Regions from separate parts of the Homo sapiens genome. Here all the other regions are linked to region 1. Evidence: fine-mapped expression QTL. A gene starts in region 1. Each other region holds a variant in brackets. All regions are shown on one strand. Distances are between the middles of the regions. Region 1 holds the start of TMEM39A (transmembrane protein 39A). Region 2 overlaps ARHGAP31 (Rho GTPase activating protein 31). Region 3 overlaps ARHGAP31 (Rho GTPase activating protein 31).

What was found. PIP is the estimated chance that this variant, and not a neighbour inherited with it, causes the effect.
Region 2: its variant is fine-mapped to the expression of TMEM39A in tibial nerve (GTEx, PIP 0.95).
Region 3: its variant is fine-mapped to the expression of TMEM39A in sun-exposed skin (GTEx, PIP 0.90).

What each region holds. Positions count from the first base shown.
Region 1 is chr3:119,462,202-119,464,964 of GRCh38, reverse strand. It overlaps TMEM39A (transmembrane protein 39A), which reads left to right and starts at 1,350. Exons shown (of 9, transcript NM_018266.3): 1 at 1,350-1,629. RefSeq lists enhancers at 1,100-1,159, 1,190-1,679.
Region 2 is chr3:119,393,382-119,396,144 of GRCh38, reverse strand. ARHGAP31 (Rho GTPase activating protein 31) reads right to left here. Exons shown (of 12, transcript NM_020754.4): 8 at 2,554-2,678. Among named protein-coding and RNA genes, the nearest start is that of TMEM39A, 69 kb to the left of the region's middle. The variant T/G (reference allele first, on the strand shown) is at 1,172.
Region 3 is chr3:119,410,121-119,412,883 of GRCh38, reverse strand. All of the region lies in intron 11 of ARHGAP31 (Rho GTPase activating protein 31), which reads right to left. Among named protein-coding and RNA genes, the nearest start is that of TMEM39A, 52 kb to the left of the region's middle. The variant T/C (reference allele first, on the strand shown) is at 1,371.

The sequences.
Region 1 (2,763 bases):
GGCTCTTATTAGCCAGGCTATTTTCTTTTTTTTCTATTATTATTATTATTATTTTTGAGACAGGGTCTCTCTCTGTTGCCCAGGCTGGAGTGCAGTGGCACAATCTCGGCTCACTGCAAACTTGACCTCCAGGGCTCAAGTGATCCTCCCACCTCAGCCTCCCAAGTAGCTGGGACTACAGGTGTGAGCCACCATGCCCGATTTATTTTTTTACTTTTTTCATAGAGACAAGGTTCCACTATATTGCTCAGGGTGGTCTCAAACTCTTGGGCTCAAGTGATCCTCCTGCCTTGGCCTCCCAGTGTTGGAATTACAGTCATGAGCCACCCTGCCTGGCCAGGCAGGCTATTTTCAACAAGCTACTTAACTTCTCTTAACTTCAGTTTCTTCTGTAAAATAATAACCATAGTAGAAGCTATCAAAATGTGAGATTTAAATGAAATGTGTAAAGCTACTAATCCAGTGCCTGACACAACAAAATTCTTAATAAAGGTTAATCATTCAATCAATACAAACAACTTTCTATTAAGGAGATTAAAATCTCTGGAGTGAAAGATTACACAAATGCTCCTTTTGACACTCTTATCTTCTTCTAATACCAAACTATTGTCAATTCCTGAACTCAAGATGACGTTGCTCACAGATCTTTACCTTTTTATCTGCCACTTCTCCAGGAGGACTGCCATTCTCCCACAAAGCCCCTATGCCTTTGTGGAGTCTTGGCTGAAACCCCAAGCTCTCTGCAAAGCTTTTCTTGGTATTGACATCACCACCATCCCACAGAATTCGTTAGTGTTACATGCTATCTCTGGACCTTGGACACACTTTTAATATTGTAACAAATGGTAATTACTGTATTTTCTTAGTGTCGCCTCTCTTCCACTAGACTCTGAGCTTTTGTGGTATTCGCTTTGTAACCACAGCATCTGTCTAGTTCTTAGCAAACAATAAGCGCAGGGTTGGATGCTGACGCATGACTTCATGACTTGGGCTCCCTCACTTAGCAGTAACGTGACCCTAGGTGACACCTCCTAATCTACACTCATCTGTAAAATGGCGGTGATAACTTGTACATGGTTACTACATGGAGTCCAAGAGACAGCAAGAAGGATCAGTAGCATGGTGCCCGCACCTAGCAGCCGCTAGCTGACTGAGGCCGAAAGAGGAAATGCTTTGGCCAACACTGGCCGGAAGGGGCGGGACCGCGAGTTAAGAGGAGAAGGCGCGCCCCACTGCGCAGGTGCAAATGGTAGGGGTTGTCGTGCCGGCTGATTCCGGGGACGCACTCGCGGCTGGGGCAGACCGCGGTCGCGTAGCTGACGTCATCGCCGTGCGCTGCCACGTCTGCTCAGCTCCGCGGTAATGGAGGCTAGGGATGGGTGCTGAAGTATCAGGCTCTGGCTCTAGCTTTAGCTCTGGCACTGGAACTGCGTCGGAGTCTGGGTCTGAGTCTGGCAGCCCGAAGCCTGGACACCTTTTCTTGATTCTCTAGGCGGGGGCTGCCTGCGTCCAAGCAGCTGGTTTGCAGCGTTCCAACGCTGGGAGGGAGTTCCCTTACCTGGGGTCCAGTCTGTAAAGTTGTCGCCGCTTTCTAGGGACCCCGCCCCACCGGCTGGGACTCTTCCATGCGTGAGTATTACTGAGCTGCCCCAAGGTCCGGCTGTCCTGGACCTGCCTCGGCCCTCTTGGGTGTGCGGCGGAGACTGCTTTGTCTACCTTTCTGCCGACTTCTCTTAGGGACCAGTCTGTTGAAGTTTGTGGTCTCCTGCAGTCCACCACACCGCATACTCTCACCTCTTCCGTCCCAGTTTTTTCCCTGCACTTTTCTTTCCCTTTGCTTGTTAATGGAGCAAGGACCAGCAGCCCCTGCATCCAGCGGTTTGAATGCTTTGTTTGACTTGGGGTTAGTTTACAGCCGAAGGCTGTTAGGAATAGGGAGCATTTGAAAACACGGGTTTTTTCCAGTGTCATCCTTGGGTTTTAGTTGTATTGTTTAGGAAACATTGGTATCCATGTTGACAGAATCATGATTTTTGCCGTAGAATGATGAAAAGAGCTTTTTTTTTTTTTTCCAGTGAGGATCTTTATCTTTTACTTGCTTCTTAATCTTGCAGTTTCAGTAATTTCTGTATGATTTTACACCAGCTTTTCTGGAGCGGGCATCCCCTTGAAGAGTTTCTTTCAATATTTTAACCCTAACATATAGAGATACCACTCGAACAGTTTTACTTTTAAACTGTTAAAAGAACTACTGGTACCCTTTCATTCCACTTCCTCAGTCCTGACAACCTCTGCAGAACAGGGGACACTCCCCCCCCCCGCCCCCCCCCCTTGAAGAAACACACTCAGAAGAACACACTCAGAAGTTAACTTATCCGGATAAGGTCAGATAATATGTGACCATCTGAGCTCACAAGCCATATCCCTTGATAACAAAACCTAATGTTTTATAAAGTGCCAATTCTTCTATATTTCAAGTAGTTTAAGTGTGAAACATTGAGCTGGAAATGTATAAGGTGTGATGTTTCTTGTAAACTTCTATTTGATTATAATATCTTACAGATGATACAAATCAGTTGACAAAAGACACAAATCATCACTTGCCTAAAGCTGAACAGAGCTTAGATCAGAACTTAGGCTTTTGACCCATTAGAGTCTGAGTAGTCCTTTAATTCGAATAACGTAAGTAGTAGACACTGGGAACATTCGTTTGAAAATCTTATTTTGTAAGGCCTGCTTACTCAGTGTTTGTCGTTGTTTTGT
Region 2 (2,763 bases), 69 kb after region 1:
GGGGTGGAAATCTTCCTAAGATCAAAGCAAACCACTTATTTCCTTTTTGTTGTTTTGTTTTGTTATTTTTTGACTTTTCATTACTGGTGAACCTCTTTCATGGCTGTACCACTGATTCTGCAACTGAAATTCTCTCTTTGACGTGCTTAAGCAAATCTCTTTTCATAGATTAGGAGTTTCTGGTCAGGTACTCTTCTCCCCAGTTTCTCCCTTAAGAATCCTATTTTCTGATTTGCATCTGTCTTGCCATACTTGTGGCAACCTGTCCTCTTCATTCAGGCTATCTTTCCATTTTGTGTAAGCTGAGTTTTGCCATACGATGATTACAGATGCAGACCCAGAATCCATTTCCCTTCTGCCCTTCGCACATAGCTCTTGTACTTCTTGGGTGTAAGTCCCATTCCTCATGCAAGGGGTTGGCTCAGGATCCCAGGCTGAAGCCAATCAGCACAAGGCACACCATTGACAACAGGGACCGAACCATGTGGCTCAGTGAAGGATACCGAGACAAGGGGAATTTTGATGAGGCCTTCTGGAAAAGAAGGGTCCCTGCTCTTAGGAGCAAGCTACCAGAAATGTTCTTTCTCCCTCTGGACCTAGTGGGATAGTCAGAGGGAAAGCCTAGAACTACTACAGCCACTTTGCCACAGCAAAGGAAGCCAGTCTGGGGATGAAGCTGACCCAAAGGGGGACACAGCTGGGACAGCTGGGGAAAACATGGAGAAATCATGACAGAGCCCCTGTATTAAACCCCCTGAAGCCTTCCCTCTATCAGGGTGTTCAACTGCAGAAGCCAGTAAATTCCCTCACTGCATAAGTTGATTGAATTGATTTGCCATTATTTACAGCCTAAATCGTTGTAACTGCTGTACTGTGACACCCCTCCTTACTCTAACAGGCAAACACGAAGGTTTCTAACATCTGGACTTCCTGATCCTTGGCATGTGATTATCACCGGGTTTGAGGAAAGTCGTTAAAAATATTATCTCACATATTTCCTATAGGAATTAATTTTCCCCCAAATCTCTATTAAAAATTTCAAACATTTAGAAACCTACCACCCTTAAACTTACCACCTTAGTTTTGATAATTATTGACATTTTGCCATATATTTGCATTATCTATTTCTATATTGATATTTATCTACCTACCTATAATTTGCTAGTTATTT[T/G]AAAGTGTCAATATTTTGCTGCTTCATCCTTGAATACTTTAGTTTTAGTATATGTCTCCTAAGAACCATTAGCATACTATGAAAATTTATAATTCCTTAATATCATTTAATATCTTCTATATCCACATTTTCCCTCTTTGTTCCCCAAATTGTCTTTTGTTGTTTTTTCTTATTTTTGTTTTTTAGAGATGTGGTTTTGCTATGTTCCTCAGGCTGGTCTCGAACTCCTGGGCTCAAGTGATCTGCCCACCTCAGCTTCCCAAAGTGTTGGGATTACAGGCACGAACCACTGTGCTCGGTCAGCTCTTTTTTTTGTTTTTTTGGTTTTTTTTCCAGGATCCAGTCAAAGTTTGCTCACTGCATTTGTACATTTCTCTTTTACACCTTGGTTTCATAACTATTGCCTCCATTTTTATCATACTTTCAATCTATAACACTAAAGATCATTATGAAAAATTTCCTTGGTCTTCTCTTTCCTGACATAATATTCAGCTGCATTGGTTAAATTCCCCACTATATATGGTTCCCTCAGTTCCTTCCTGTATCAATTTCTATGCACTACTCAGAAATAAGTCCCATGGGGTAGCATCCTTCTTTAAAAATCACGACCCTGGGGGAGAAGGGACAGGTCTTTTCAGCAGAATTCCAATTAATAGAAAATCATCATTTAGCAAATGCCATAGGAATAATTGTTACATCCAAGAACCATCAGAGGATCCTAAAATTCATGACAAAGAGCACTTTAACCAAGGGATCACAGTTCTCTTCACACGCAATAAGATATTGACATCATGTACCTCCTAATATAACACACTGAGTCTGGCACAGGATCACTTCTGTAGGATTTCTGCAAAAATTCCTAACCTCAGTTTAACCATGAGAAAACACTGGACAAACTCTCCCTGAGGTATATTCTACTAAACAAATGGCCAGTACTCTTCCAAGTTATCACGGTCAAAAAGATGGAGGAATTGTCCTAGATTGGCAGAGGTTAAGGAAACATGACAACCAAATGTAGCGTGAGATCCTGGATTGGATCCTAGACCAGAAAAAGAACAGTAGTGGGACAGCTGGCCAAATGTGAATAAGATCTGCAAATTCATTAGGAGTATTGTATCAATATTAATTTTTGGCTTTGATAACTTATATAAGATGTTAACATTGGGAGAAGCTGCATGAAGGGTATACAGGTTCTCTGTGTACTATTTTTGCAATTTTTTTGGTAAGTCTAAAATGTTTTGAAAAAAGACTCCTCTTCCCCTAGTTAATTTATAAGTTTCTCTTTCAGAGCTAGTGTGTTTGATATGATCAAACCAAAGACTTAATAAGCAGAGTTAGGAAACAAATATTTGTATCATAAAACAATTGCTGTTGATTCTTACCCGAGAGCCTCTGTCCTCTCACAAATACACTCCCATTTCTACTCAGTTTTGATTTGGAGTCTGATCCAGAACGTCCCAGGTTAAATATTGATTTCCACTTCTTTGATTTACTGGAGAGCTTTCGCCTAAAAGAACCAAGGCATAAGGGGTTAGTTTGTTAACTTGTCATTTCAAGGGGACTTTTAAATTGAGACCAAATATTCCAGTTAT
Region 3 (2,763 bases), 52 kb after region 1:
ACCCGGCTAATTTTTGTATTTTTAGTAGAGATGGGGTTTCACCATGTTGCTAGGCTGGTCTCAAACTCCTGGGCTCAAGTAATTTTCCCACCTAGGCCTCCAGAAGTGCTGGGATTACAGGTGTGAGCCACCACGCCCAGTCTCTTTTTTCTTATTACCAAGGAAATACATATTTCACATGGAAAAAAATATGAATACATATTAAAATAAAGGCAAATACAAAGACATCAAAATCATACATCCTTACTCCCCACAGATAACCACTGTTAACATGATGGGGATTTCTTTGTTGTGGTTTGTGGAACTGCCTACTCCTCCACCTTGCTTGCTGTCCTTGTCTCCCCTCAAGTCCAGCTTCCCTTTGTCCTTCTAGACTCCTCCCTTTCCCTACATAAGGCCCAAAGCTATAGACAGGAAAAGGATGGAAGGAGGCCTGCTCAGGGCCAGGACAACCAATTTCAATTTCTTTCTTTCTTTTCTTTTTTTTTTTTTGAGACAAAAGAGTTTCACTTTTGTCACCCAGGCTGGAGTGCAGTGGCATGATTTCGGCTCATTGCAACCTCCTCCTCCCGGGTTCAAGCGATTCTCCTGCCTCAGCCTCCCAAGTAGCTGGGATTACAGGCATGTGCCACCACACCCGGCTAATTTTGTATTTTTAGTAGAGATGGGGTTTCACCATGTTGGCCAGGCTGGTCACAAACTCCTGACCTCAGGTGATCCGCCCGCCTCAACCTCCCAAAGTGCTCAGAAAGGTGTGAGCCACCATGCCTGGCCCAATTTCTTTCATTTCTTGCCTCAAGGCCTAATTCTGTCCCAGGGCGAGGCAGCCGGGGGACGAATCTCCATCCTGGGATGGCACAGGCCTTTGTGAAAGTAATTTTTGCTGCTGACCTCTCGTCCCTTCTCACCTAGCTCTAATCACTTGTTGTTTCATATTACAGTTACTTTAATGCTTGTCTTATTATTCCCAATGGACTGTGAGCTTCTTGAGGTCAGGATTGTGTTTATTCATCTTTGATTCAACAAGGCCAAAAGGTGCCTGGTATACTGTGAATGGGGGCTCAATAAAGGGTCTGCTGAACTGTAATGGATTCAGTGTTTTCTTTTGGATTATTTCTTTCACATATCTCTGTGGGATTACTTTATCAAAATTAATCTGCTTCTACCACACTGCATTTATTTGTGAACATTTCTATTTTGCCTACTAGACTGTGCCCTCCTTCGGAGCGGGGACAGCTTCATCTCTTTACTCTCCTCAGCACCTACATTAACTGGGATATTACTAAGAAATCAATACTGAGAAACCATAAATTTAGATGAACAAATGAACATCTAAACTCCCTTCCACTTCACTCTGCCCTCTCAGTAAG[T/C]GGACCCACAGTGCATCTCTTTGCTCAAACCAGAAACCTATGAGGTGCCTTTGACGTTTCCTTCTTTCTCAGCCCTTATCTAATCCTTCAACAAGTCCTGTCCATTCTACCTTCTAAATAGTGATTGTAGCCCTTCATTTCTATCCCCATGGCCCCACACTAGTCTACACCTCCAGCTTTTCTCTCCTGGCTTACCACATACTCCCCTCCTGATGCATTCGTGCCTCCTTTCTTCAAGCCATTCTCCACACAGAATAGAATGACCCATTAAAGACAAAATTCTGAACACCTCATATGCTTTCCCATTGCCCTTAGGTTAAACCCCAAATCCCTTCCAAGAAGTCCTGGCTCCTGCATCCCCCTGAGTCTCACTTTCTCCAGCCCAGCTATCCCAGCCTTGCTCCCATTCCTTGAATGGGAATGCTCTTTTCTACCTTGGATTCATGGCACATCTTATTCTTTCTGCCTGGAGGTCTCTCCTTTCCTAGTCCACCCACTGCCCCTTTCTTCCATCTAAGTTATCTGCCTGAATATGCACTCTACAGAGAAGCTTTCCCCGACCCTTGTGGCATGCCTCCTCCCTCTGACTAGGTTGGGTCCTCTTGCTATGTGCTCCCATGCACTCCATGCTTCCATAGCACCCCAGGAATTACTTGTTCAATCTTTTCCCAACTAGGCTGTTAGCTCCAAGAAGGCAGGGATGGTTAAAGCCTTGTTCACTACAGTGATGCCAGTGCCTGGCACAAAGTTCATGTTAAATACATGTTTTGAATGAATGAATGAACTGATGCCTTTACTTGTTCCCTTGAATCCACCCGGTTCTCTTTCCAGCACTAACTTTACCTGCTTCTCAAAGCAATGCCATTCATTCCTACAGGGTCCTCCCTGTAATAATTCAATCAATCCCCATATGAATCTCTTCATCTTTCCCCTTCAACAAATGCCAATATATCTTATAGAGACCCTAGCTCAGCCATCCTGAGGCCTCCATGGCACTCCACTCTGCCCTAACTCCCAGCACATGGTTCTTTTGTGCACGTCCTGAAAATCAAGACTCTGGAAGCAAGTTCAAAGGCATCCTCCTTTCTGGTGCCCTCCTCTGGTCACAGAGCTGCCTCTCAAATGCAGGACTCCTCCTTGGGTATCCCTGGAAAACCTCCTCACACTTTCTATTGAAGGACATCCCATAAAAACCTTCTTGGAAAATTCCACCTCTAAAAAGTAGACAAGGTTTAGTCAGCTCCAGCATTGTATTTTAACTTCTCCAGAGCCCACGGAAGGAAAGAATGGATCCTGGAAATATTTATTGTTTTGGAAATAAGTGTAGACAACTGCCCATCCAGGATGTCCAGAAGAAGAAGGCTGGACTCTGTGACTGATCATGATATTTGGG